Regions from separate parts of the Homo sapiens genome. Here region 2 is linked to region 1. Evidence: fine-mapped expression QTL. Tissue or cell type: whole blood. Region 1 holds a variant in brackets; the other region holds the start of a gene. All regions are shown on one strand. Distances are between the middles of the regions.

Region 1 (2,893 bases):
GGCTGACCCCCCCACCTCCCTCCTGGACGGGGCGGCTGGCCGGGCAGAGGGGCTCCTCACTTCCCAGTAGGGGCGGCCAGGCAGAGGCGCCCCTCACCTCCCGGACGGGGCGGCTGGCCGGGCGGGAGGCTGACCTCCCCACCTCCCTCCCGGATGGGGTGGCTGGCCGGGCCGGGGGCTGACCCCCCCACCTCCCTCCCGGATGGGGCAGCTGGCCGGGCAGAGGGGCTCCTCTCTTCCCAGTAGGGGCGGCCGGGCAGAGGCGCCCCTCACCTCCCGGATGGGGCGGCTGGCCGGGCGGGGAGCTGACCCCCCCACATCCTTCCCGGACAGGGCGGCTGGCCGGGCAGAGGGGCTCCTCACTTCCCAGTAGGGGCGGCCGGGCAGAGGCGCCCCTCACCTCCCGGACCGGGGCGGCTGGCCGGGCGGGGGGCTGACCCCCACCTCCCTCCCAGACGGGGTGGCTGCCGGGTGGAGACGCTCCTCACTTCCCAGACGGAGCGGCTGCCAGGCGGAGGGGCTCCTCACTTCTCAGACGGTGCGGCTGCCGGGCGGAGGGGCTCCTCACTTCTCAGACGGGGCGGCTGCCAGGCGGAGGGGCTCCTCACTTCTCAGACGGGGCGGTTGCCAGGCAGAGGGTCTCCTCACCTCTCAGACGGGGCGGCCAGGCAGAGACACTCCTCACATCCCAGACGGGGCGGCAGGGCAGAGGCGCTCCCCACATCTCAGACGATGGGCGGCCTGGCAGAGACGCCCCTCACTTCCTAGATGGGACGGCGGCCGGGCAGAGACGCTCCTCACCTTCCAGACTGGGCAGCCAGGCAGAGAGGCTCCTCACATCCCAGACGATGGGCGGCCAGGCAGAGACGCTCCTCACTTCCCAGACGGGGTGGCGGCCGGGCAGAGGCTGCAATCTCGGCACTTTGGGGGGCCAAGGCAGGCAGCTGGGAGGTGGAGGTTGTAGCGAGCCGAGATCATGCCACTGCACTCCAGCCTGGGCACCATTGAGCACTGAGTGAACGCGACTCCGTCTGCCATCCCGGCACCTCGGGAGGCCAAGGCTGGCGGATCACTCGCGGTTAGGAGCTGGAGACCAGCCCGGCCAACACAGCGAAAACCAATGGTTGTATTTTAAACCAATAAATCTAGGGCTAATTTGTTACATAGCAGCAACAATAGATAACTGGAAATATACATATTCTTCTATTCTCACAACAGTCTGGTGATATAGGAATTATTATTATGTCCATTTTACAGATGAGGAAACTAAGGTAAAGACAGTTGAAGTCATTTTCCTAAGTCACACAGCTGGAAAGCAGTGGAGCCAAGCTCCAGCCCTGAGTTCACATCTCCATGCTGAGAAGTCCTTGGTCTTCTTGCCATA[C/T]CAGGGCATGTCTATTCCTTCCCTACTTTTACCCAGGGTGTAAAAGGGGATAGGAAGGGAGAACAGAGACCGCCAGGCAGAGTGAAGCAAAGTAGAGTGTGCTTGTCCCTACAAGTGCAATGCTCAGTCCCTATTCCATGGCCTGGGCCACATGGAAGGTGGATGGCAGGCCTCCTACATGGGCTGACAATGTTGGTAACAGCCTCCCTAGGGAAACAGGTAGACTCTCTTGCCCCACTTACCAACCTCAGTGCCTGTCAGAGTAGCATCAATACACCATAATTCTTGTGTTGAAGCACTTTAAGTGACAAGGACAAAGCAGATGCCCTTGGAAGGGACCTGGTTTGAGGTGAGATGGTGACCAGTGGTCCCCCAGAGGCCATTAGCGAACCACTGGAAGTGAGCCAGGTCCAGAGCACACAGGATAGGCTGTCTTCTCACAAGCTTTGGTTTATTTTGTCTAATTGTTTCATCTTCACTACAACTCTATTTTAAAGTAAATATCATTATTTCCAATAATGATAATGGAGAAATAGAATCTCGGAAAGGAAAAAAATAATCTGCCAAGTAATCATTTGGCATTGGATCCCAACCCAAGTCTTCTGACTCCATATAGGGGGGAGGTGTCACAAAACAGGGGATTCCAAAAGAGTGTCACTTGGTTTATGGAGTTGTCGAAGGCAGTCCTGAAATAGTCAAGGATGCTGTAGGCTCTGCTGCTTGGTCTCAATTTACCTGTCTTCACTCCTGAAAAGATTCATTCCTTATGTTAAAATATAGTTTAAAAACAAACCTATAAAACAGTCAACTTGTCGTTTTGGAGTCTTAGAGCGGAAAGAATGGGGCATGAACGAGGTCATAGACAATGTCATAGACTGCTGACAGTGGGAGGGGAGTATTGATTATGTTGTCAAATGGAGCACAGAGTCAAGACTCAGTCATTACGGCCTACAGCCAGGCTGGCCTGCAGTGGTACAAATGTCCCTGATGAAGGTCAGGGAAGTGGGGCTTTTTAATTCTAGCTCTGCCCAGCTAGGGGCCACTCACTACCCACTCCGGAACTCAGTTTTCTTGACCCTAGCATGAAGGTTTGGACTTAGATGATTGTAAAGATCATTCTCTGCTTTTGGGACTAGGGAATTATTTTCCCTCTCTCTGCCTGCCAGGAGGTGAACCTTTGCAATTCTCCCAAAGCAAGGGTTTAAATGGATGATCTGATCAGACCGAGCACAGTAGGAAGGCTAAAATCCGGGTTCTGGAATCTGGCAGATCCAATTCCAAATTCCAACTTGGCTGGTTATTAATGGTGTGACCTTGGGCAGCTATTTCACCTCTTCATGGTTTCAGTTACCCTACTTACTGGGAATATACATTGTTAATGTGTGTCATAGACTGAGTGTATCCCCCTCTAAAACTTGTATGTTGAAGCTTTAACATCCAATATGATTGTATTTGGAGGTAGGACCTTTGGGAGGTGATTAGGGCTAGGCAGAGTCATAAGGGTGGGGC
Region 2 (2,893 bases), 58 kb after region 1:
TTTAAAGTGCAAATTCTCCGGTCCGCGTATCGCAACCACCCCCCTCCAGGCTCCGCCCAAGTCGGAGCCACGGCTCAAGTCCCCGACTCTCCTCCTTTGTCATGGCGGATCTGTGTCAGGGAGCCCAACCTACTGCAGAGTGTTAATTCCTCCCCCCGACCGGAGCCAGAGGGAGGAGCAGCCCGCGCCCCCGCCCAAGCCGTGGGGGGGGGGGAGAGATGGGGAGCGAAGCCGCCCGACCCCGGGGCAGAGACGCCACAGCAGCCCGCAGAAGCGGAACCACTACCAGCCCCGCCGCGGACACACCCCGCTCTCCCACCCAGCGCCTTCCCCGCCACCGATCAGCGCCGGTGACCGTGTACAGCGTCTCTAAGGGACCGACAGCTGCAGGTGGGGGAGGGGACGAGAGCCACACCCAGCCGAGCGGGCCACCAGCGGCTATGCTCAGGCTCACCCGCCCCCAAAGCAGGATATGCGTCCCCAAACCGAGCGCAGGGACCCTCCAGTTCTAGTCCATCAAGCACGGGAGCCGACTGCGGGCTCACCACCCTGTTCTCTACCCCGACCTGGACTTGCAGCCCCCGTCCACACCTCCCCCGCCCGTTCACAAGGAGCAAAAAAAGTCAGACCCATCCCCCACCCCCACCAGGAAAATTCAAGTCCTTCCTCCCACCGCGGAGCCCAGGAAATTCAGCTCTAGGTCCCAGGCGAGCCCCACCCCAAAACCTCACCCCGCAGTGGACTCCCCTCCCGCCGGCGCGCAGCCTCGCCCCGGTCTACCTGGCGGGCGCCGCCGCGCCAGGCCTGGGCTCCGGCCCGCTCTCGGCCAGGCCTTTCCCTCGCGCTTGGGTCCCCGAGGCCCCCGGCCCCTCCCCGCCGCGCCACCGCCTCCCGGGGTGGGGGAGGGCCGGGTCCCGCCGCCGCAGCGCCCAGCGCGGAGGCTGCGCGAGGGGGAGGGAAAGGAGGGGGCGGCCGAGGGAGAGGGGAGGGGGCGGCCTCACCTGCGCCACTGCGATGCCCGCCGCCGCCGCCGCCGAGTCATTATCTCGGGCGGAAGCGAGAAGGGCGGCGAGGGAGGGGGTGGAAGCCCGCAGAGACAAGGGTGGGGATGGATCGCGGCCGGCGGCGCCCCGGCCATGCCTCGTCCACCTTCGGGAGCCGGCGACAGGGAGATCCCCAGGGATCTCGCGTGTGGGCGCCCTACCCACCCCCGGGGGCAGGACGGGGGAGCGAGCACCGATCGGCGCCGGGGCGTCGATGCGGAAGCAAGGAGCCGGAGGCGGCCGCTAGCCGCCCTCCCGAGCCCAGCGGAAGAGGAGCCGCCGCCCGTGTCCGCTGAGGAGACTCCGCCTCAGCCCGGCGCCGCCACCGCGGGGCGAGTGGGGATGAGGGGACGGAGCGAGGACGGCTCCCACGCGTTCGGAAGGCTGGCCTGGGACAGGAAGCGAGGCGCGGCGGCGGCCGGGTTCCTCACCTGTGTCCGGAGTGGGTGGTGGCGGCGGACGGACGGGCTCAGCAGTCTCTGGGCGGCGGCGGCGGCAGCAGCGGCGAGGCTGAGACTCTGTCCCTGGATCTCGCTGCTCACAGGCTACAGCCGCTCCGCAGACACGGGGTTTCCTCCAATCACCAGCCCCGGCAGCAGGGGCACCACACGCACGATGACGTCAAACGCTGCTATGGCAACCGTTGATTGGTGCCCACAGCGATCGGGGCCCCGCGTAACCGCCGCTCCCCGGCGCTCGTCCTGCCCGCCCGCGCTGGAGGGCGAGCGGAGGCGCGCGCGTCCTCGCCCGCAGCCGCCACTCCTCCCACCCCGCTCGGCTTCCAGCTCCTCTACGCTTGTCCCGAGTGCACCTAGGGCAGGAGGCTGCTTTTTTCCTTTTCCTCCCCAACGCAAATCCCCCACTCCTCGCCTTCCCTTTGGGTCCCCAACGCCCTCTCTCTCCCTCTCCCCTGCAGCCTCTGCCGGCCCACTCTTCCTCTCAGCCGGCGGGAAGGCGTTCTCTCCCTACCCCCACCTTAGCTTTCGCTCAGCCCGTCTGCGCTTGCCCCAGTCACTCCCTCTGGAAGGGGCTCCCGTTCAGCAACATCCGGGACCTTTCACATCCCCCCACCCCTCCCCGAGGCCCGGCCCGCCCCACCCTCCGTGCTTCGCGGTAGTAACTGCCCCAGGGCCGTCCCCGGGCAGGATGACAAGGGTGGCTCGGCGGCTCCGGCATTGTGATCAGGACTTGCGGGGCGGGGGCCCCGGGGCGGGGGCAGGGCGCGGTCGCACGGCAAGGGAGGGTTGTGTGTGGTGCGCTGCCCCCCGCCCCGCCCGCCGCTCCCCTTCCCCGGCTGGGCCGACCGGGGCGCGCGGCCCCTCCCGGCCTCCCTCCCGCCGCCGCGGCTTTACCTGCTGGCTCGGGGGAAGCGGTCCTAGACCTTTTATGGCTCGGAAACGGGAGTGAGGCGTCCAGCCCCTGAGTGTGGCTGAGTGATGGGGAGGCGTTCCAATCGAGAGCGCGGGATCTGCGCTCGGTGACTGCGCGAGGGGACAATGGGTGGGCGCCGAGGTGGGGGCGAGGTGGGCCGGGCCGGGCGGAGCCGGCAGGAGGTGAGGCCTGGAAGGAGGCGCGGCCGCTTTAGGGAAGCCAGAGTTCCGAGGGGAAAGGACAGCCTTCTCGGGCGGAGGGCTGGAGCTGGTCCTGGCAGCCTTGACCCGGAGACAGGCAGTCAGGCGTGACCGCACGGACCCGTTTCTCGTAGGCTAGGTTTTCCTACCCAAATAAAGCTTTCACGTGAAGACCTCATACTGCACATGACGATCATTACCTTTTTATCTCCTAGAAGCAAGGTTTGAGGGACGTCGTAGTCCCCAGGGTTCCAGCTGGCGGTGGGAGTGGGCCACAGG

Evidence for each region.
Region 2: YWHAZ starts here. The variant in region 1 is fine-mapped to the expression of YWHAZ in whole blood (TOPMed, PIP above 0.99).

The regions. Positions count from the first base shown.
Region 1 is chr8:100,892,226-100,895,118 of GRCh38, forward strand. No RefSeq gene overlaps it. Among named protein-coding and RNA genes, the nearest start is that of YWHAZ, 58 kb to the right of the region's middle. RefSeq lists an enhancer at 390-1,068. The variant C/T (reference allele first, on the strand shown) is at 1,385.
Region 2 is chr8:100,950,455-100,953,347 of GRCh38, forward strand. YWHAZ (tyrosine 3-monooxygenase/tryptophan 5-monooxygenase activation protein zeta) reads right to left here and starts at 1,566. Exons shown (of 6, transcript NM_145690.3): 1 at 1,475-1,566. RefSeq lists enhancers at 1-804, 431-510, 1,663-2,521, 2,801-2,893 and silencers at 91-310, 701-1,470, 1,701-1,960, 1,981-2,660.